Regions from separate parts of the Homo sapiens genome. Here region 2 is linked to region 1. The links come from fine-mapping of genetic effects on gene expression. A gene starts in region 1. The other region holds a variant in brackets. All regions are shown on one strand. Distances are from middle to middle.

Region 1 (11,760 bases):
TCCAGTGTGAGGATTCAGAGCTTTGGAAACCTCAGACCCCATATGGGACACTTACGATTTTGAAAATTAAATTGCATGACGTATTTTAAATTCTCAGTACATGCTAAATGCTTAATTAATATTGGATCCTTTTATCTCCTTTCAACCTGAAATAATAGCATTAAATTATGTTCTCACAGTCCTTTCCATTTTGCAAGGCTCTTTCCATTTATTTAGTCCTACTGAGCGCTAGGAATTTTGCTAGGCTATAGGAATAAACAGATTGAGTAAAGTACAGTCCCTGCCCTCTAGGAACTTACAGTCTTGCAGTCTAGTAGGGGTGGAAAAAAAAGAGATCTTTTTCCCTTCCATGTGACTTGGAGCAGAAATTCTCGAAGTATCATCCAAAGACTACTTGGTGGGGGTGGGAGGTGGTCCCTGAGATCCTTTCAGGGGATGTGATGGTTGATTTGGGGTGTCAGCTTGACTAAGGCACCCATATAGCAGTAAGACGTTTATTCTCAATGCTTCAGTAGGCACTGAGTCCATCCGTCTTCTGCTGAAAGGGAAGCCTGAGTGGTTTGGCATTTGATTAGAATGTTTGGGCTGCCCCAGGTGTGTCTGTGAAGGTGTTTCTGGAGGATATTGGGGTGTGAGTTGGAAGACTAGGTAGGGAAGATCCACCCTCACGGTGGGTGAGCACCATCCAGTTGGATGGAGGCCCAGCTGAAGCCAAGAGGTGGAGTAAGGGTCAATTCTTGCTCTCCCTTCTGCAGCTGGGATGCCCTTCTCCTGGCTTTGGATGTCAGAACTCCAGGTACTCCAGCTTTTGGGATTCTAGGACTTGAACCAACAGCTCCCTGAGCTCCCAGGCCATTGGCCTCAGACTGAGAGTTAGTTAGACCATCCATCAGCTTCCTTGGTTCTGAGGCCTTCAGACTTGGACTGAGCCACACTACTGGCCCTCCTGGTTCTGCAGCTTGCAGACCCCACAACTGAGTGAGCTAATTCCCCTAAGAAATTTGTTCTCAAATATCTCTATCAATATCTTTATCTATATATGTATCTATATGTATATCTTCATGGTTCTGTCTCTCTGGAGAACTCTGCCTAAAACGGGTCTGCATGATCTTCCCTTTTCCAACTCCTTATCTGTGTGAGATTAGATTTTCATTTGCTTCAACCAAAATAGCACATTGTGGCTGGGCGGGGCGGCTCACGCCTGTAATCCCAGCACTTTGGGAGACCGAGGTGGGCAGATCACTTGAGGTCAGGAGTTCAAAACCAGCCTGGCCAACATGGTGAAACCTTGTCTCTCCTAAATATACAAAAATTAGCCAGGCATGGTGGCATGCACCTATAGTCCCAGCTACTTGGGAGGCTACTTCGGATGCTGAGGCAAGATAATTGCTTGAACCCAGGAGGCAGATGTCATGGCGAGCCGAGACCGTGCCACTGTATTCCAGCCTGGGCGACAGAGCAAGACTACGTCTCCAAAATAAACAAACACATAAAGCTAAAAAAAAAAAAAATAGCACATTGTGACAGACTGAAGCAGAAATGAGAATTCAGCTGTTTTCTATTAAACTAGACATCAAAGAGATTTGCAAAAATGTAAAATAATACCTTTCTTACTAAACTTTTTTGGTTTGGAAACAGCCATTTCACTAAAACATTTTATTTATGTCAGTATGTATATTTATTATCCTTATTTTTCAAATATTTTTAATTTCAGTAGCTTTAGGGGTACAAGTGGTTTTTGGTGACATGGATGAATTGTGCAGTGGTGAAGTCTAGGATTTTAGTGCACCAGCATCTTTGTAATGTACATTGTACCCAAAAGGTAGTTTTCATCCCTCACCTCCCTGCCACCCTCCTTCCTTCTGAGTCTCTATTATCCTTATTTTTTTAATGCAGTAATAGATATTTGAATAATAGCTTTACTGAGATATAATTCACATACCATGCAATTCACCCATTTCAGTGGTTTGTAGGATACTCAGACTTGTACGACCATCACTACACCAGTTTTAGAGGCTTTAATCACCCCAAAATAAACCCTGAACCCCTTAGTCATTGTCTCTAAATTCCCCCACCCCTCACCCCCTGGAAATCACTAATGTCCATTGTGTCTCTATGGATTTGCCTATCCTGAATATTTCATATACGGTAAACGGAATCAGGTAATATGTGATCTTTTATCACTGGCATCTTTCACTGAGAATAATGTTTTCAAGGCTCACACACGATGTTGAATGCATCAGAACTTTGTTTCTTTTTATGGGTGAATAATATTCCATTGTATGCATAGACCACACTCTGTTTCTCCATTCATTAATGGATGCATGCTAGGATTACCTTCACTTGCTAGCTCTTAGGAATAGTGCTGCTGTGAACATTTGTGCATGGGTTTTTGTGTGGACTTACGTTTCATTTATCTTGGGCACATACCTAGAGCGGAATTGCTGAGTAACTCAGTGTTTAACATTTTGAGGAACAGCCAGACTGTTTTCCAAAGCAGCTGTATCATTTCACATTCCCACCAGCAGCATATGAGGGTTCTGATTTCTCCACGTTAGTTAGTGTGAAGTGATACCTCACTGTGGCTTTGGCTTCCATTTTTCTGATGGCTAATGAGGTTGAGCATCTTTTTATGTGCTTATTTGTAAATAGAAATAGTTTTTGTAAATATAAGTATTTGTATTTGTAAATATTTATAATATTTGTAAATATAAATATTTTTAAGTTAAAAATCCTTGAATTTACAATAAGGTAAATATCAATAAAGATAACCTTTGGCCGGGCACAGTGGCTCACACCTGTAATCCCAGCACTTTGGGAGGCCGAGGTGGGCGGATCACCTGAGGTCAGGAGTTCGAGACCAGCCTGACCAACATGGTGAAACCCCGTCTATACTGAAAATACAAAATTAGCCGGGCATGGTGGCGCGCAGCCTGTAGTCCCAGCTACTCGGGAGGCTGAGGCAGGAGAATCGCTTGAACCCAGGAGGCAGAGGTTGCAGTGAACCCAGATCGCACCACTACACTCCAGCCTGGGCGACAGAGCGAGGCTCGTCTCAAAAATAAATAAATAAATAAAAATAACCCTCACTGGAAAAAAAAAAAAAGAGCTCTTTAGATCCTTAATAATTTTTTTCGCGTGTTCAGTGGCCCTAAGACCATGAAGTTTGCAAACCACCAGCTGGTGTTAAACATAAGCCAAGGTGTTATTCTAATGGAGATCTGCCCGAAGTCTCTCTTCCCTGATAAATGCTCTTCATTTTCCGAATAGGCCTCTCTTCCCCAGACAAAGGAGTGAAGGAGGGCTGCTCTTTTAGTTGTGAGCATCACTGTAAGCAAACAATAGGTTTGCTTTTCTGAGTCATGTCCAGACCCCATGGCAGGTCTGTGCACCAGATCCAAGTGCCACCCTTCCCCAGAATTGCCAGAGAGGTTGCAAGATCGAAAAGAATTTTAGGAGAGGTAGCTATGAAAATACAGACTTGGGGGTTCCACGGTTCTTACTTTTTTCTTTAGTTGCAACTGGAGACAAAAGCATCAGCCAGCCAGTTCACAACGGGAGCAGGGAGCAGAGAGAGAAATTAGCATTAGACTCAGATCAGTGCAATAACCAAGAAGACCAGAGATAGAAGTGTCCCTGGAGATCAGCTGACCCACTCACTGCTATCAATAAAGCTACTCGGGCCCATCTATCAGCCCATCCATCCATCGATAAGTCCATTCGTTCATCATCCATCCAACCAACATTCACATGGTACATGCTCTGGGCATTGGCCCATGTTTGGTGTTGGAGACGCAGATAAATCAGATTCAGCCCCTGCTCTGTAGGTATTTGCAAGGCTGATTGGGAAGAGAAGTTCTGGTATAAGAGTACACTAGACACCCCAAACTCTGTTCTCACAGAACTTGCTATCTATGGATGTCCCAAACATCTTACAGGTGCTTCAAGCTTAGCCTGTTCAAAAAAGAATCTGTGGTCATCACACTCCTATCCATCAAAAAATAATCTGTTAATGCAATACTTTTTATTTATTCTTACTATTTTTTGTAGAGATGAGTCTCACTATGTTGCCCAGGCTGGTCTCAAACTCCTGGCCTCAAGTGATCCTCTTGCGTTGGCCTCCCGAAGTGCTGGGATTAAAGGCTTGAGCCACTGCACCCAACCAATACGATAAATATCCCTGAGTTCACGCTGATATAAATAAATACAGTACTTGAATAAATAAATGGAGAAGAAAAGTCAGCTTTTCCTTACAGAGAAAGGCCATTGAATATATGTAGATGAATAAGGGGAATAGAAAATCACCATTGGAGAAGCACTGTAGCAATCATTTCTGCAGCAAGATCCACAGATGGATGCTAAAATTAATGGGCAAAAATTGGAGGAGAACAGGGTATTCGCATAGCCTCAAAATTTCTCCCCCAGCGTATTTATTAATTACAAAGGGGGAAAATAGTAACTTAACAGTGGAGAAACCTGGCAGACACCACCTTAGCCGAGGGACTAAAGTTTACACCATGGGTAATAAGACACATCAACATCATGTGGTCCCTGATATAATTCCCGGGGAAGGGTGTGAGACCACTTCTGTGGTATTCCTGCCCTAAATGCATAGTCTCAATCCAATCATGAGAAAGCTTCAGACAAACCCAAATTGAGAGAAATTCTGCAAAACAACTGATCAGAGCTCTTCAAATGTTTCAGGGTCGTGAAAGACAAAGATTGAGGAGGTTCAATCACACATCCTAAGGACAAATCACAAGACCAAAGGAGATGGGATAACAAAATGCAACATGGTTGAGCAAGAGCTGGATTTTCTGAAACAAAACAAAACAAAACAAAACAAAAAACTTAATTGAAAATACAAGGTGGGATCCTGGATTGGATCCTCAAATAGAATAGTTTTTCTATTAGTAGAAACATTAGTAAAATTTGAATGAGGTCTGTAATTTCTTTAATAGTTTTGTTCTGGTGTTGGGTCTTGCTTTTAGTCATTGTGCTATGGTTAGGTAAGATGTTAACAGCTGAGATAACTGGGTGAAGAATATTCAGAAACTTAATTTTTGTGACTTTTCCTCAAGTCTAAAATAATTTCAAAATAAATTTTTTAAAAAACGTGTTCCTCTACAGAGTTTTTTTTTTTTTCTTTTTTTCTTTTTGAAACAGAGTCTTGCTCTGTTTCCCAGGCTGGAGTGCAATGGCAGGATCTCGGCTCACTGCAACCTCCACCTCCTGAGTTCAAGCGATTTTCCTGCCTCAGCTTCCTGAGTAGCTGGGATTACAGGCCCCTACTACCATGCCTGGATAATTTTTGTATTTTTAGTAGAGATGGGGTTTCGCCATGTTGGCCAGGCTGGTCTTGAGCTTCTGACCTCAAATAATCCAGCTGCCTTGGCTTCCCAAAGTGCTGGGATTACAGGTGTGAGCCACCGCGCCCGACCTCTACAGAGTTTTCTCATCTCAGTTAAGGGCAGCCTCAATTCCCCAGTTGCAAATACATGTATGTATAAAGAGAGCCTTTCTGCATGCTTCTCTATCCCCAACCACCAGCATCTGACCCATCACTCAATCCTGTGAGCTGTTTCCTCAGTGCCTCGTAACCTTCTACTTATCCCCATCTTCACCCTGATGACCAAAACGTTTTCTAACTTGTGTGTTTGCCCCTAATCTGATTCCCACCTAATCCATTCTTTCCTGAGGGCAAGACACATTGTTTAAACACACAGAAACACACATACATGCACACACACGCTCCTAAATATGACACTCCTTTGCTGAAAACCCTTTCACAGCTTCCTTTTCCCTGAGGATAACATCCAACATTTTTCCTGTGACTCACATGCCCCCGTCTGTTCTGTTTCCTGCCTCCTGTCTCTTCTTACTTGTAACAGTCTCACCACCATGCCCCTCCTTCTGCCTACCACGTTCCTGACACACCGGCCTCTCTCTGATGGAGGGACTCAGTGCCTTCTGCCCCAGGACCTTTGCATATTCAAGTCTCTGCCTGGAATAGTCTCTCCTAACTCTTCAGCTGGCCAGCTCCTATTCCTTACCTCAAATGTGACTTTTCTAGAGAGGCCATCTCCGAATCCCCACACTAGAATGTGTGTGTTTAGCATGAGAATTCCATGAAGACAGAACTATTTTCATCACTATATTCCCAGCATCAAGCCCGTGGAAAGAACCAGGAATAAACATTTGTGGATCGAATGAGGAAATGGGAACTCAGAGTTATGGCAAGACCCAAGTCCTCTTCCCAATATACTCTTTGGTGTCTTTACGTCGCAAAAGTCTGGAGTCTCACTAGAATTATCTAACTATGGTAATGTTGACTTCCAGGCACTGCACAACGTAAGCTCGTCAATGACATGCAACAGTCCCATGAACTGGGGATTCTTGTGAGCCCCGTTGGTCAGATGAGGACAGCAAGGTTTGCAGACGCAGTGTCTCCCCAAAGTCACAGAATCAGTGATAGAAACCAGGATGCAGACACAAGTGTATCTCCAAGGGCAGGGGCTAGCAACCTAGACTCATTCACCCCACTGTGTCCATCAAGGGAAATGTGAATGTCTAAATGGGAAGCAAGAAGAAGTCTGTTAGACTTCAGGAGCTTCTCTCTGAATCCAGCCCACAAGAGCCTCCCAAGTTGTAAGAAAATACATAGAGGACACAAGGCATGGCTGGAAGCATTACCTTCACGAGGAGTACAGGCTTCTGCCAATCCCAGGAAAAGCAGAATCAGCAGCGACATTTTCAGAAATGGCTCTGATCTGTGCATGATGGGGCTGGGATTTGGGCTGAATGTTCTCCTCCTAGGATAGACAGGACTCTCTGGTCACCCACCGTCTTCCCAGGCTCCAGGGACAAAACTAACTGCCCACACCTGCCCTCTAGCCTGCCTGGAGGCTGGCAGGTCTCCAGACCTGTGCCCACGCCACCAACTGCTGACCAAAGAACTGTATCTGCTTTTTCATCTTAAAGCAACATTTTAGAACAGTTTCATGCTGAGTGTGATGCTTGTCATCCTATGATCTGCTGGCCAAATCCTGCCCTCCTCCTGTTTTTGTAGGGCCTATGAGCTAAGAGTAATTGTTACCTTTTTTAATGGTTGGAGGGAAAAAACAAAAGAAAATATTTCATGACATGAAGATTATATAGAATGTGAATTTCAGTGTCCATGAATAAAGTGTTATTGGAACACAGCCATGCCATTTCACTATGTATTGTCTACAGCAGCTTTCAGGCTGCAAGACTGAGCTTTGTAGTTGTGACAGAGACCATCTGGGCCAAAAGGCCTAAAATATTTACTGTCCGGCCCTTTATAGAAAACGTTTGTGGACCCCTGTCCTAGACGTACTGTAAATTTCAGAAAAACAACAAAGCAAGCAAACAACATCTATCGTATTTCTACTCAGAAGTAAGTATTGTTTTTACATTTTTGTGTATATTCCTTTCCAAAGATGTCTACGTTTATACTTACCTCTAGCACTTACTAGCTATGTACCCTGAGCAAGTTACTTAACCACTCTGTGCTTCATTTTCTTGATCTATAAAGTTGGGATAATGATATTTCCAGGCTAATGTGATACTATCATATCACACCTGTATGATAGTAAATTTGTACTGTTGTAGCCATTAAGTTTGTAATAATTTTTCATAGCAGCCACAGGGAACTAACTGTTTCCACTGGTAATTCTTAGAAATTGCTTTGACAGTCAAGAACTTTAGCTGTCAGTGGGAATATGAACTTGACCCAGTATCCCTCTGGACTCCTGGAATAAAGGCAGAGTGTAGAGACCACTGGTCTATCTAAGCTCTGAAGGTTTCTATGGTACTTCCTTCAAGCCTGATAGAAACAGAGGGTTGTGTGTAGTGTCCTGGAAGGAAAGAGTTCCAGGTGTGGAGGGATGTCCACTCTTGCAGGGGACTCTCTCCTGCCGCCATCTCTGGTGCTATCTATGTTTCAATCCCTAGTACAAGCTGGACCATCTCATGTACATTAGGGGATACCTCAGCGATCCTTCAGACTAGGCTGGAGGAGAGAGTTCTTGTTGGCCATTTGCCATATTTCAGAGCTCCCCTCCTTTGTGAGCACATGGTCCTGGCAACTCATCACCGGGAAAACGTGATACTACAGGATTTGTTATAATGAGCAGAAGAAACAAGGCGTAAAACATGTGGAAGGCTTTTCACATCCGGTGCTATGCGGAAGTAAAGACCACCCAATGAAAACAAGCAAAGGCTATTAATTCAGAGCTTGCTGTAATAAGGGAGGCCACTGACACCATTTGTGTTTGGCACAGACTCAAAGGCAGGCAGGGTAGTGGGAAAGCTTATAGTGAAAGAAAGGGAAGGCTTCAAGAGTGCCTGGTTGGAGGCCGTTGGCATAAGGAAGCTGGCAGTGGTTAATTAGAGGCCATTGTGATTGGTTGGGGGAGCATATTTGGATTTCTCTGATTAGTCCTACGTTTCGATTTTCCATCCTTCCTTAGCAGCCTCATTACCAGCACAGCTGTTTCTTTGCTTTATCAAATATAATCACAGTCCCTAACTCATAACACTAGGGTTTAAATGCAACAAATGCCTGGGATGTAGAACATCATTAATATTCTTTAGCATTATCTGCTCTGCCAGACTGTGATCTGGGGACAGAGATGAGTCAGATACTGGCCTTGCTCATGAGGAACTCATGCTTTAGGGAAGATCAGGATTTCTCACCATTGGCACAGCTGACATTTAGGACTAGATCGTTTTTGTGGTGGGGGCTGTCTTCCGCTTTGTGGGATATTTAGCAACATCTCTGGTCCCTATCAATTACACAGTAGCACCTGCCCCACCCACCCCACACCAACCACCACCGCCACCATGTTTGGGGAGCCACAACTAGGAAGTGATGAGCTTTTAGTGCTTATTACTCTATTTTTATTATAACTTATTTATGTTCAAGTTTATACAATTTAGTTTTGAGTATTGGGCTATGTTAGGCAAGCAGCTAAAATGAGGAATTTTACCTCAATTTAAAAATGTTTTAAATGTAGAAAACTGAAAACGTTAACAATTGACCCTCATAAGCTGGCTCCAGTACACGTATGTAATATTATTTTGTGTGTTTTTACATTTATTCTAAATGGTGTTTCACTGAATCTTTCTTGCACAACTTGCTAGCTATGTATGTATTTATTTATTTATTTATTGAGACGGGGTCTCACCCTGTCGCCCAGGCTGGATTGCAATGGCACGATTTCAACTCACTGCAAGCCTCCGCCTCCTGGGTTCAAACGATTCTCCTGCCTCAGCCTCCTGAGTAGCTGGGATTACAGGCGTGCGCCACCACACCTGGCTAATTTTTGTATTTTTAGTAGAGACAGGGTTTCACCATGTTGGCCAGGCTGGTCTCGAACTCCTGACCTCGTGATCCACCCACCTCGGCCTCCCATAGTGCTGGGATCTTTTTTTTTTTTTTCACCCAGCGTGATGTTTGTGAGATCCACTCATGTCTATGTGGAGCAGGGAAGTGGTGCTGGACCTGGAGACGGCAAAAAACCTGGTTGTTATAGTCACAGACAGCCAATCAGTTAGAATCACAGACATTGAGTCAATCCAGTGTGGATGCCAATCCCTGCCCCACCACACTACGGCTGGCCTGAGTTTCTTCTTGCTACCATAACAAATTACCATAAAATTTGTGACTTAAGACGACATAGATTTATTATCATACAGTTCTGGAATTGAGAAGTCTGAAATGGGTTGATAGAGTGAAAAGCCTTGGTAAAGCTACATTCCTTCTGCCGGCTCTAGGAGGAATTTGTTTCCTTGCCTTCTGCAGCTTCTACAGGCTGCCCACATTCCTGACTCCTGGTCGGCCTCTTTCATCTTCCTAACCAACAGCATGGCGTCTTCAAATCTCTCTCCAACCCTCTCCCATTTTCAGGCCAGCGATGGCCGGTCAAGTCTTTCTCACCGTACATTGCTCTGATTCTCTGTTTTCATCATTCCGTCTCCCTCTGTTACCCATTTCCCTCCCTCTTTCACTTACAAGATCCTTTGTGATTACATTGGACCTACCCCAGTAATCCAGGATAATCTCCCCACAAGGTCAGCTGATTAACAGTCTTATTTTTATCACATCTGAGAGTAACACACTCCCAGGTTCCAGGAGTCAGATGTGGGTATCTTCAGGGACAATTATTCTGCCTGCCTCACAGATGCATAAACTTGCTCAATTGACTATATCCCTGAGCCTCGGTTTCCTCCTATTAATGATAGCAACAATTATTATCATTAATTATTATATTATTATGCCATATAATTGTGAATGTTTTAAAGTATATTGAGGGGATGTGGAGAAATTGGAGCTCTTATACATTGCTGGTGGAAATGTAAATTGGTATAGCCCCTGTAGAAGATAGTTTGGCAGTTTCTCAAAAAGTTAAATATAGGGCTACCGTATAACCCTGAAAGTCCACTCCTAGGTATGTACCCGAAAGCACGGAAAACAGGTAATTACACAAATATTCACACACGAATGTTCACAGCGACACTATTCACTAGAGTCAAAATATGGAAATGATTCGAATGTCCATCAATAGATTAATGGGTAAAGTGTGGTATAGCCATATAATAGGATATTATTCAACTGTAAAAAGAAATCAAGTACTGATACATGCTAGAACATGGGTGAACCTTGAAAATATTATGCAAAGTAAAAGCAGCCAGACACAAAAGACTACCTAGTGTATGATTCCATTGATACGTAATATCCAGAACAAGTAAATCCTTAGAGACAGAAAGTAGATAGTGGTTGTCGGGGACTAGGAATGGGGAGGGAAAGAGGAATGGCTGCTTAGTGAGATGGGGTGAGGGGTAAGGAAAGTGTTTTAAAACTAGATGTGGGTGACGGTTGAACAACATCGAGAATGCACTAAAGGCCACTGAATTGTACACTTAAAATGGTTAATTTTATATCATATGAATTTTACCTCAATTAAAAAAGTTTTAAATGTAGAAAAATGTGTTAAAAGCTCTAAAAATAGCAATTAAAAATCCCATGTTACCAAAACAAAACAAAGAAAACAGTACAAGCATAGGGACTGTGCATATTAAAAGTAACTAAATTTAAAAAGTATTAAAAGTAACTAAATTTAAAAATTAAACCAGCAGCAGCAGCAGCAGCATCTGAGGCTTCTACAGGGAAACAAGTGGAAATAGTTCAACCCCTCTGTACAGTTCCTGGGGCAGTCCCAGAGCTTGAGCAGGTGGGAGGGATGAGCATTCTGTCCCTGCCGCAGGGGCCATTACACCCACAGGGGCAGCGCCCACACAAGGGGTCTCGGCTGCAGCTGGCATGACTGGCTCAGCCACACCAATGCTTCTGTGTCCTGGGCAGCCTGGCTTCCCAACCCCCAAGGAGTCCCAAGCCACTGACTAGGTCCTAGAATAGACAACCCATGTCCTGGGCTCTGGCTGGCTCTCCAGTCAGTTCCTTCACATCTATCCTAGATAGAGGAGCCCTTGGAGTCTTCTGTCCCCCACTAAACAGATAAGGGAGCAATGGGTCAGAAGTTTCAGGGATTTTTCCCAGAAGGGACCTGAAAAGTGTCATCGGATTTAGCCAGGCTCTGAAATCATAGAGGTGCGGGATCAAACCTCAGCTCCCTCCACCTCCTGGCTGTGTGCACTAGGACAAGGATTTCTTTTCTTTGGACCTCAGTTTCTCAGGGAGTAAAAATGGAGGTGTCATAGCAACAGTCGATACTTTTT
Region 2 (11,760 bases), 29 kb before region 1:
TGAAAGCACACCTTTATATGAAAATAACTATCTGGTTTGACCGGTGCTTTAATGTATGGTTGAAGAGAGCCTGAGAAACCGTTCAACACCATTCATTTCCTTCAGCATCCTCCCCAGTGGAATCTGAAGGATTGCTGTTGGTTCCTGAACCAAAGCATTGCTTAGGTGAATCTTGAGGACTGAGGAGGACTTTTCTAGGTAGACAGAGATCAAGGAATCAATGTGTGCAATGGCATAATGGAGCGGGAAAAAAAATGTGATGTTTTGGGGGGAATCAGAAATGATTTAATATGGGGGGGCGTGGTGGCTCATGCCTGTAATCCCAGCACTTTGGGAGGCCGAGGTGGGTGGGTCACCTGAGGTCAGGAGTTCGAGACCAGCCTGGACAACATGGTGAAACTTCATCTCTACTAAAAATACAAAAATTAGCCAGGTGTGGTGGTGCATGCCTGTAATCCCAGCTACTTGGGAGTCTGAGGCAGGAGAATCGTTTGAACCTGGGAGGCAGAGGTTGCAGTGAGCTGAGATTGGGCCACTGTTCTCCAGCCTGGGTGACAGAGTGAGCCTCCATCTCAAAAAAAAAAGACTGGGAGCCACCGCTCACGCCTGTAATCCCAGCACTTTGGGAGGCCGAGGCGGGCGGATCACAAGGTCAAGAGATCGAGACCATCCTGGCCAACATGGTGAAACCCCGTCTCTACTAAAAGTACAAAACTTAGCTGGGCGTGGTGGCACTCGCCTGTAGTCCCAGCTACTTGGGAGGCTGAGGCAGGAGAATTGCTTGAACCCGGGAGGCGGAGGTTGCAGTGAGCCAAGATTGCGCCACTGCGCTCCAGCCTGGCGACAGAGCGAGACCCTGTCTCAAAAAAAAAGGTTTAATATGGACAGGGGATGGAATGTGGGTGGGGGGATCAAGAGAAGTGGAGAAAAGTTTAGAGAAGCAGGAGGAGCTTGGAGCCTGAGAACCCTTGGGTACCATGCCAGAGACCTGAACTTGATCAATGGGGCAGAGGCTTCCTGCCAGGTTCCCTGAAAACTTGGGATCTTTTAGGAATTCCACAAAGGTTTGCTTTGATTTTCATTTCAAAAATTAAACTATTTTTTAAAATAGGTGTGTACCCAAAATATAGCACATGGACTGAAATTTTTATTCACTGGAGAGCCACACCAACCTGTTGCATGTTTTACATACAGACCTTGGGGAAAAAATTGTATTACCTGAAGGGCATGTACACTTCACAAGGCAAACTATTAGGCATTTGCAGTGACTTATCTCTGTGGGCTCAGATTTTTCTCCGTATGAACAATTAAAAGGAAACACTGCAAGATACGGGGTAAAAGAGAGTAACGTAAGACAGCAGAGGCCTTCTGTACCCTGTGCTTGCAAATCTCATCACCTCACTTCATAATAAGTAAATGTCACACAGTTAACCTTAGGAAAAGTACCTCTGGTAATGAAAAGCAACTTAGAATTTTTTATATATTGGGATTCCATGTAAGATTTCAGTAGAAAAGTGTTTTGGATTTTCTTTCTTTTAAAGTTTGAAAGACACTCATCATAGTTGGTGAGTTTCCACTGGTGGATTTAAGCAGGACTGCAGCAGGGGGTGGGGGTATATCGTATGATCGAGTTGACATTTTTTAATGTAAAAAGGGCACTGGGGATGCCAGGGAGAGGATGAAAGGCAGGCGACGTGGGAGAGGCCAGGGAGGAGCCTCTTTGTAGCTATCAAGGGAAGAGAAATCTCCCATCTGTCCTTAGTACTTTCTCTGGCGACGTGGGAGAGGCCAGGGAGGAGCCTCTTTGTAGCTATCAAGGGAAGAGAAATCTCCCATCTGTCCTTAGTACTTTCTCTGGCAACAGGGGAGAGGCCGGGGGGGACCCTCTTTGCAGATACCGAGGGAAGAGAAGTCTCCCATCTGTCCTTAGTACTTTCTCTGGCGACGTGGGAGAGGCCAGGGAGGAGCCTCTTTGTAGCTATCAAGGGAAGAGAAGTCTCCCATCTGTCCTTAGTACTTTCTCTGGCGACGTGGGAGAGGCCAGGGAGGAGCCTCTTTGTAGCTATCAAGGGAAGAGAAATCTCCCATCTGTCCTTAGTACTTTCTCTGGCGACGTGGGAGAAGCCAGGGAGGAGCCTCTTTGTAGCTATCAAGGGAAGAGAAATCTCCCATCTGTCCTTAGTACTTTCTCTGGCAACAGGGGAGAGGCCGGGGGGGACCCTCTTTGCAGATACCGAGGGAAGAGAAGTCTCCCATCTGTCCTTAGTACTTTCTCTGGCGACGTGGGAGAGGCCAGGGAGGAGCCTCTTTGTAGCTATCAAGGGAAGAGAAATCTCCCATCTGTCCTTAGTACTTTCTCTGGCGACGTGGGAGAAGCCAGGGAGGAGCCTCTTTGTAGCTATCAAGGGAAGAGAAATCTCCCATCTGTCCTTAGTACTTTCTCTGGCAACAGGGGAGAGGCCGGGGGGGACCCTCTTTGCAGATACCGAGGGAAGAGAAGTCTCCCATCTGTCCTTAGTACTTTCTCTGGCGACGTGGGAGAGGCCAGGGAGGAGCCTCTTTGTAGCTATCAAGGGAAGAGAAATCTCCCATCTGTCCTTAGTACTTTCTCTGGCGATGCGGGAGAGGCCAGGGGGACCCTCTTTGCAGCTATCGAGGGAAGAGAAACCTCCCATCTGTCTTTCGTACTTTCTCTCCGTACCCTGGACCCTAGCCTTGACCAGGCTACCGTCATCTCGTGGAAACTGAGTAGCCTCTTAACTGGCCTCTACACTTCATGTCACTGGGACGTGTCTCTTTCTCACTGACAGCCTTTCCGTGGCTTCCCATGGCTCTGAAGGTTGGGTCTAAAATGCTTGCTCTAATCTTCCAGGTCTGAGGTGGTCTGCTGAGCATGTCACCCACACTCCTCCCATAGTGCCCTCCCACTCCCTCCCCCTTCTCCTGCCCCCATTTTTCTTTCTGACTCCAGGCACATCTAGGCCACTTTCCACCCCAGGGCCTTCGTACAAGCCAGTTCCTTCACCTGGAGGCTCTTTCACTTGTTTTCTGTGTATCTGACAACCCCTCATTCTACAGGCCTTTGATTCATTGTCACTTTCCTAAAGAGGCTTTCCTTCATCACCCAACTATCCAGGGCAAGGTTCTTTAGTTCTCTTTTTCATCATATCCTCAGCTTTTCCTCTAGCTCTAAGTATCACCTGTAATCATCTAATTGTTTTCTTGTGAGCTCAGGAATCTTGTCTGCCCCGTTCACTACTGCATCCAGGATGCATCAGTGGGTCGTTATAAACACAGAATTATCATATGACCTAGCAATTCCACTCCTAGTTTGTACCCCAAAAGATTTTAAAACAGATATTCTAACATAACTTGTTCATAGCACCACGACTCACAACAGTCAAAAGGTGGGAGCAACCCAGTGCACTTTACCTGATGATGGATAAACAAAGTGTGCTATGTCCATGCCGTGGAGTGTTATCCAGCAGAAACGAATACAGTCCTGATACAAGGTATACCATGATGAACCTTGGAAATATTATGCCAAATGAATAAACCCAGATGCAAAGGGCCACGTAGTGTATGATTCCATGTGTATGAAATGACCAGAGTAGGTGAGTTCTCAGAGACAGAGAGTAGACTAGTGGTTGCCAGGAACAGGGGGAAGAGACGATGTCTTGGTACAGAGTTCCCTTTTAGGATGATGAGAAGATTCTGGAAACAGATTAGTGGTGATGGCCACACAATATTTTGAGTGTACTGAATGTCACTAATGGTTAATTTTATGTCGTGTGTGTTGGGCCACAAGTCCTAAGACTTGTGAAAAAATTATAGAGTGAATTTATAAAGGAGTTCCTCCTGCCCGGCACATCCCTGTCATTTACAATGTGTTTCCTTGCCCCTGTCAGGCAGTGGCTTGCAAGTAAGGGTGACGAACTTGGGACTTCTCATGGAATTCTGGGTTTCTATGATTGCAGCTTCCAAATCCACCTGTGTTCCTTACCTCAAATGCCAGGCAGTTGGGATGAACCTCCCCTAACCCCACCCCAGCGGTGGGAAAAGCCCACTTCCCTGCCATAGCATACCTGATGTCCAGTTCCAAGTTACAGTAGTGGCAGTAACACTTGGGAGGAAAAAGTGAACTGGGAACAGAGAAAGAAACAGTTGGGGTGAGGCGAGTGAATTCCTTCCTTACCTCCCTTTCTCCCCATCCCCCTCTCGCTTCTTTCCCGTCCTCCCCCTCTGCTCTTTCCCTCTGGTTGTAACATCTTCTGGTCTTGCTTCTCTATTCAGCCCGCCTCTCACCACTCCCACCTTCTTCCCCATCTTCCAGCCAGTTCTCCTCATCCCCATAAGCAGCACAATCCCCTAAGCTGGGGTTTCTCAGCCTCAGGTTCCTGACGTTTTGACCTGGGTTATTTTTGTCGTGGCGTGTTGTCCTGGGCCGTATGGCAGGTTGAGTGGCCTCCCTGGCCTCTGCCCACTGGATGCCAGTCGAGCTCCCTCCTCCAGCTGTCACAACCAATCCTGTGGTCCAGACACTGCTGAGTGTCTCCTGGGTGGCAACGTCACCCCCGTTTCAGAACCACTAGCATAACTGAAGTCACTGTCTCAGGCTCATCTCCCTGGTCTCTCCATTTTCCTTATTCCTCACACCCAGCGCATAAGCAGTTCCTTTAGAACTGCTGCACGGCTCTCATCTCCATGAGCACCGCCAGGTCCCCTGCGCTGGCTGGTCGGGCCTCCTCTCAGTGTGTCTCCTCCTCTCAGTCTGTCTGCTCCCACTCTCGCCCTGATTCCGATCCACTCTCCACAGGCAGCATTGAGAAGGATCCTTTGATAACTCAGAAGGGATCTTGCTGGCGGCTGTCCACTAGCTTAGAACACAAGCTTCCTTCTCGTGGTCTATGAGAACCTTACATGACCTGGACCCCCCTGCCCCTCTCAGGTCACATAGATGTTCCTTTGGTTCCTCGAAGGTACTCAGTGTGTTCCTGCCTCAGGGTCTGCTGTGCATGCCTGCTTTGCTTGCAGTGGTTGCCCCCAAGCTGCTCTGAAGGCAAGATCCTTCCACTGTCTCATCTCTTATGTCCAGACGTTACCTGCCCGGGGAAGGCTGCCCGTGGCCATGGCTGCTCACTCTGTGATATCACCCTGATTTAGTTCATGTTTTTTGGAGCTGGCTGCTTGTTTCTCTGCAGTCCTCCTGCTATCCCAAACATGGGAGCCCTGGGGACTCAAGGACCTTATGGGTTCCGTTCTTCTCTGAGTCCCCAGCATCTAGGATGGGTCCTCTACACACGTGAATATTTGAAGACTGACTGAATCAATGAATGAAGGATGACTTGTCCTTCCTTCCATCCCTCCTTCCCTTCCGTCTTGCCTCCCTCCCTCCCTCCCTCCTTTCCTTCCTTTCCTTCTTTTTTTTTCTATTTACTTTAATTTTTTGAGACAGAGTCTCACTCTGTCACCCAGGCTGGTGTGATCTTGGCTCACTGCAACCTCTGCTTCCCAGGTTCAAGTGATTCTCCTGCCTCAGCCTCCCGAGCAGCTGGGATTACAGGCATGCGCCACCATGCCCGGCTATTTTTTGTATTTTTAGTAGAGACGGGGTTTCACCATGTTGACCAGGCTGGTCTTGAACTCCTGACCTCGTGATCCAGCCGCCTCAGCCTCCCACAGTGCTGCGATGACAAGCGTGAGCCACCGTGCCCGGCCTGGCTTGTAGTTTCTTGCACCCTGCCTTATTTTCACCTCTCTGAGTCTCGCACATGGTGTTTCTCTGGAATGCTTCCCCTGCTTCCCCTCCTCAATTGGCTAATTCCATTCTGTCCTTAACCCACAGCAGAGGTGTCACCTCCTGCAGAAAGGCTTCCATGAGCCCACACTTCCCCTAGGCTGAGATAAGCGCCACTGCCTCCTGCACTAGCACCTGCTCATGAAGTGCTACCACTCGGTGATCTGGTTCTCTCTGTGGATGTCTGCCTCCCTTACAGAATTAGGACCTTCTTGAAGGTAGCTCAACCATCAGAGTCCCCAGCAACCAGCAACAGGCTTGGTCCTTATGAACGTCCCTTAGAAAGAACAAGAGACAGCGGCAGAGAGAGAGGCAGAATGAGTGACAGTATTTCAAAGGAGCCCCTGGGGCTGTGTTAGTGCAGAAGGGAGAAGTTTTATCCCAGTCTAGAGGTGGGAGGGAGGGAAGAAGGAAAGAGAAGGAAGGAGAGAGAAGGAGGGAAGGAGGAAGGAAAGAACAGGGAGGGGGGGAAGAAAAGGAAGGGAGGAGGAGGGAGGGAGGAAGAGGGAGAGGAAGAAGAGGGAGAGGAAGAAAAGGGGGAGGAAGAAAAGGAAGGGGGGAGGGAGGGAGGAACGGGGAGGAAGAAGAGGGAGGGAGGGAGGAAGGAAAGAAGGGCAGAGAGGGAAGAAGGATGGGAAGGAAGAAGGGAGGGAGGAAGCAGACGGAGAGAGGAAGAAAGGAAGGAAGGGAGAAAGGGAGGGATGAAGGGAGGAGGAAAGAATAGGGAGGGAGGAGAGAGAAGGAGGAAGTAAGGGAGGGAAGAAAAAAGGAAGAGGAAAGGGAAGGAGGAAGGGGAGGGAGGGAGGGAGAAAAGAGGGAAGAAGGAGAGAGGAAGGAAGAATGAAATGAGAGATGGAGGCGGGTGGGAGAGTGGGAAGAAGAGAGTGTTTTACAGAAGGGCTCTCCCACCACTTCCTGCTTGGCACCTCTGAGGCACCCTCCTTCGCTTCCTCTGTGCCCCCACTTC[C/G]CTCCTCTTTCCTTCCTCTCCTCACACTCCTCCCCTCCGTGCTGCCTTCTTCTTACCCAGTCCCCTTTGTTGTAGGATACGAAGAGGTAGGTCATCACCATGTAGGCGCATTTCAGGAAGTTCCACGTGTTCTTCCTCTTGGGGAGTGGTTTCCTGGATGGGGTGGTGCCTGAGAAGGGTTTAACTGGAGAGAACCGTGGAGATGATTGATGCTGATGGCCTTCCCTTCCTGCCTTAGAGCTTCCTGTCACTGCTGTCTCTCCATTCTGATCTCCAAACTCACATCTCTGCCTGCCTCCTGAATTGAAATTTTGGTCCACACCCACCATCACTGCCAGCTTCCCCCTTCTTGGTTACCACCATACTCCAGACAAACAGTCAGGAATGCCTTTTGGCTCTCCCACCTCACATCCAAGACATCACCAAATCTGACCCTGTCTTGCCCAGATTTCTCACCAAACTGTCAGAGGGGTTTGAACCAGAGTGACTCCGTCTTGAATAGGGGCTGGGTAAAATGAGGCTGAGCCCTACTGGGCTACATTCCCAGTAGGTTAAGGCATTCTTAGTCACAGGATGACAATAGGAGGTTGGCACAAGATACAAGTCGCAAAGACCCTGCTGATAAAACAGGTTGCGGTAAAGAAGCTGCCAAAACCCACCGAAACCAAGATAGCGATTCAAGTGACCTCTGGTGGTCCTCACTGCTCATTATATACTAATTATAATGCATTAGCAGGCTAAGAGACACGCCCACCAGTACCATGACAGTTCACAGATGGCATGGCAACTTCAGGAAGTTCCCCTACTGGCCTAAAAAGGGGAGGCACCCTCAGCTCCAGGAAATCTCCACTCCTTCCCTGGAAAACTCATAAATAATCCACCCCTTGTTTATCATATATTCAGGAAATAACTATAAGGAGACTCAGTCCAGCAGTCCTTGCTGCTGCTCTGCCTATGGAGTAGCCAGTCTTTTATTCCTTTACTTTCTTAATAAACTTGCTTTCACTTTATGGACTTGCCTCAAATTCTTTCTTGCACGAGATTCAAGAACCCTCTCTGGGGGTCTTGATCGGGACCCCTTTCTGGTAACAAAACCACCACCTCTCCCCCATCCCCAGGCTTCAGGCTCTGCTCTTGATGGCTGCCTCTGCCCACTACGCCATCCTTTCTCTTTCTCATCCATCTCCCACATGAGTGCCAGCAGGATCTTTCTAGCACCAGATCCGACCGTGTCGCTTTCTTATGTCAAACCTCATGAGGTGCAAGAGTGTTTCTTTCGCCTGTGTAACATTTTTCCCTTGTCTTTTTATTTTAAAAGTATTACATTCAGAAAATCTCATTTTTTTTTTACACGTAAACCTGTCTGTCTAAACAGGTTTCCAATCAAAAAATAAAACATTACCAGTGTACAGGCAAATGCAAATCGAAAACGAAAAAAAATGAATTCTCCCTGTTGAAAATTCAGGAAGCGATTACTCCTTGTCCCCTTTGCTTAGAGCATTTACTTTAGAAAATTTTGCCATTGCAAGTCTCTCTCTCTTCAACGTTTACACTAATCTTTTTCAAAGCTAAGTAAGCCTGCGGCCAGCATTATGACCCAGGAGGGTGTTTTCAAGGACCTCGAAACATCTTCCCCAGCTTCTTGTTGGGAGGGGATGGAGCCTAACTTTGGTGGGCACCTCACCCCAAGTAGCAAATCTACCTCCTGTGATAAAGATACTAGAAGTTTATTTTTCCCTTGGATTAAGCCAATTAACAAACACAGTTGGCTATCCCAATAACCAAGTGAATTTACGGTGAACCATGTACAGCAAATAGAGCTGTCAAGTTCTTTAACTTGAGGACTAGCTGTTGTTTATCTTGAGAGCAGGTATGTAATAAGTTGTATCTGCTTGGCTATATAAAAGGGTGAAATTTTTTTTTTCTGTCTTTGCAGTCTCTTCGCATATCATGTTCTGGTTTAATGCTTACCCATTAATAAAACTATTTTCTTTCTCTTCTACCTGGGTGGAGAAGAGCTCTGGGTTTGGAGGATATTTTGTTTTTAATTATATTTCACCAACACCAGCATATCCCAAGCCTCTCAGATATACCCTCCCAATCAAAGGTACACAATCACATCTATAAAAAATGAGGCTCATCTTTCTTTCTTCACAATCCTTTTGCCTATTATTACCTTTCTCTTGCCTGGCTAGGATTTGCACTGGATAGAACGTTCAGTCCAATGTGAAATGCAAGTGGTGATAGCAAGAACGTCTCATCTGTGATCTCAGAGGGAACATGTTCTACACCCTCAGCCCTCTGTGTCGCTGGACTCTGCATCTGAGGACCCAGCCAAAAACTGGTCAAAAATACTTTTTAAAATCCCAATAAAAATAGCAATACAACAATAAAAACAATACAAAAATATAACAGTACAATAACTAAGGAGCATTTACATTGTATTATAAGTAATCTAGAGATGATTTAAAGTGTGCAGGAGGCTGTTCATAGGTTAAATGCAAGCATTATGCTATTTATATCACGGACTTGAACATCAAGGAATTTTGCTATCTGCGGGGAGGTCCTGGACCCAACCCCTGAGGATACTGAGGGACAACTGTGTTTTACCTTAAACAGCTTGTTCTTTGTAAGTTTTTGGTGGCTATTCCTTATTATATTAAGCTGTTCTCTCTACTCCTAGCTAGCTGAGATTTTTTTTTTTTTTAATCATGAACAAGGCTGGGCATGGTGGCTTATGTCTGTAATTCCAGCACTTTGGGAATCTGAGGCGGGAGGCTCACTTGGGCCCAGGAATTTGAGACCAGCCTGGGCAACATAGGGAGACCCAAACTCTACAAAAAATTTAATAAATTAGCTGGGTGTGGTGTCTCGTGCCTGTGGTCCCAGCTACTCAGAGGCTGTAGAGGGGAGGATCACTTGAGCCTAGGAGTTTAGGGCTGTGGTGAGCCGTGATCATACCACTGCACTCCAGCCTGGGCAACAAAGCTAGACCGTGTCTCAAAAAAAAAATAATGTAAGCTGTAAAATCTTACCATATTCTTTTTCTGTATCTACTGAAATGATAATGTGCTTGTTTTCTTTTATGTTAATAAGGTGGGAATACCATATATTTGTTTTTACCTATTAAACCATTGTCGCATTGCTGGAATAAAGTGAATTTAGTCATGATTGTTTAACATGTATTGCCAAATTGCACTTGCTAATATTTAGTCTAGGATTTTCCATCTATATTTATGAGGAAGATTGGCCTGAAATTTTCCTTTGTCGTATTTGTCAGATCTTTTATCAAGGTTATTCTGTCCTAAAACCGAGTTGGGAAATGACTGTTTTTAATTTTCTGGAAGATTTCCTGTAAGATCAATGTGATTTCTTCCTTTTAATTCACTATTAAAGCTAACTTGATCCTGAAAGACTTTTTTGTGTGTGGTAAGGCTATTTAATTACAGGTGGCATTTCTTTAATAGATAGAGGATTATTCAGATTTTTTTTTTTTTTTTGAGATGGAGTCTTGCTCTGTTGCCAGTCTGGAGTACAGTGGCACGATCTCAGCTCACTGCAGCTTCCGCCTCCCAGGTTCAAGTGATTCTCCTGCCTCAGCCTCCCGAGTAGCTGGGACTACAGGCACCCGCCACCACGCCTGGCTAATTTTTTTGTATTTTTAGTAGAGACGGGGTTTCACCAGACGGGGTTTCATCATGTTGGGTGGGATGGTCTCAATCTCCTGACCTTGTGATCCGCCTGCCTCGGCCTCCCAGAATGCTGGGATTACAGATGTGAGCCACCGCGCCCAGCCCAGATTTTTTATATCATTTCATTTGTTTTTGGTAATTTGTGTTTTTTTGGGATTTTGTCCGTTTTATCTAAACTTTCAATTTTATTGGCATAAAGTTTCTCCAATGATCACCTTATTGTTATTTTGTTACCTGCAAGATCTGCTATGATACTCTCTTCTTCCTTCCAAATATTGGCAGTTTGTTTCTCCTCTATTTTTTCTTGTCAGTAATGCTAGAGGATTAAATTTGTATTACGCTTTTCAAAAGAACCAACCATTAGTGTTGTTCTGGCTTTTTTTTTTTTTTTTGAGACTTGCTCAGTTACCCAGGCCGGATGCGGTGGCACAATCACGGCTCACTGCAGCCTCCACCTCCCCAGCTCAAATAATCCTCCTGCCTCAGCCTCCCGGGTAGCTGGGACCACAGGTGCTGCCACCATGCCCGGCTCTGCCTACTTTAAAACGCTCATCTCCACCATCTGGATCACTTGGTGGCTTGCTGCTATTTTCTGGTTTTCCGGCCCTCAGTCCTATCACCCAGGACTTAGCTTGGTAATTTCCATGTCGGGAAGAGAGGACTCACAGTCCACAGAAGCAGCAGCTGGGATAGAAATGTCTCCCACTCACATCTCAGTATGTTGGGTCTCCTCGATGCCCATGAGCAGTGTGAAAGGGGCAGTGGCTTGCAGACTTTGGATGCCCTTCAGGAAGGCAGCCTCTCAGGTACCAAAGCCCCTGCAGGGCCTTGATTACCTGAAATCTTCTCTTCTAAGGCTTTATCATAGCCCAGACAGAAGGGACACACTGTCTTATAGATGAGGAATGGTACGACCCCAAGCACTTACCTTCCTCCTTGCAGCCACTTGTTTCTTCTAAAAATGAAGAGATGGAGGAGAAAAAGAAGCAGGAAGAGAAGGAGGAAGAGGAAAGGAAGAAAGGGAGGGAGAGAGGGAGGGAGGAAGAGGAAGAGGAAAGGAAGAAAGGGAGGGAGAGAGGGAGGGAGGAAGAGGAAGAGGAGGAGAAAAGAAAGGAAAAGAAAAGAAACCATCAGGTGAATTATGAAGTGGGTGGAGACCAAACTCTAAATAGTGCTTCCAGGTGCCTCGAATGAGGAGAGAAGAGAATAAAGTTAGTCTCCCTGTGTCCCTGGATCCCAGGGACTCAGCTGCCTCAGGGCCTTTGCATATACTGTTCTCTCTTCCTGGAATGCCTTTCCCCCAG

What was found.
Region 2: its variant is fine-mapped to the expression of EDDM13 in blood mononuclear cells (TOPMed, PIP above 0.99). The same link has a PIP of 0.9 or more in whole blood.

Annotation. Positions count from the first base shown.
Region 1 is chr19:56,267,853-56,279,612 of GRCh38, reverse strand. EDDM13 (epididymal protein 13) reads right to left here and starts at 6,865. Exons shown (of 15, transcript NM_001354658.2): 1 at 6,694-6,865; 2 at 3,504-3,521. The coding sequence starts at 6,778. All of the region lies in intron 2 of ZSCAN5A (zinc finger and SCAN domain containing 5A), which reads left to right. LOC124900420 reads right to left here and starts at 6,865. Exons shown (of 5, transcript XM_047439799.1): 1 at 1-6,865.
Region 2 is chr19:56,297,156-56,308,915 of GRCh38, reverse strand. The region is part of intron 2 of ZSCAN5A (zinc finger and SCAN domain containing 5A); the gene reads left to right. It overlaps EDDM13 (epididymal protein 13), which reads right to left. Exons shown (of 15, transcript NM_001354658.2): 12 at 11,385-11,411; 13 at 6,821-6,948; 14 at 4,086-4,123. It overlaps LOC124900420, which reads right to left. Exons shown (of 5, transcript XM_047439799.1): 5 at 1-11,760. The coding sequence starts at 2,675. The coding sequence ends at 1,557. Among named protein-coding and RNA genes, the nearest start is that of ZSCAN5A-AS1, 12 kb to the left of the region's middle. The variant C/G (reference allele first, on the strand shown) is at 6,765.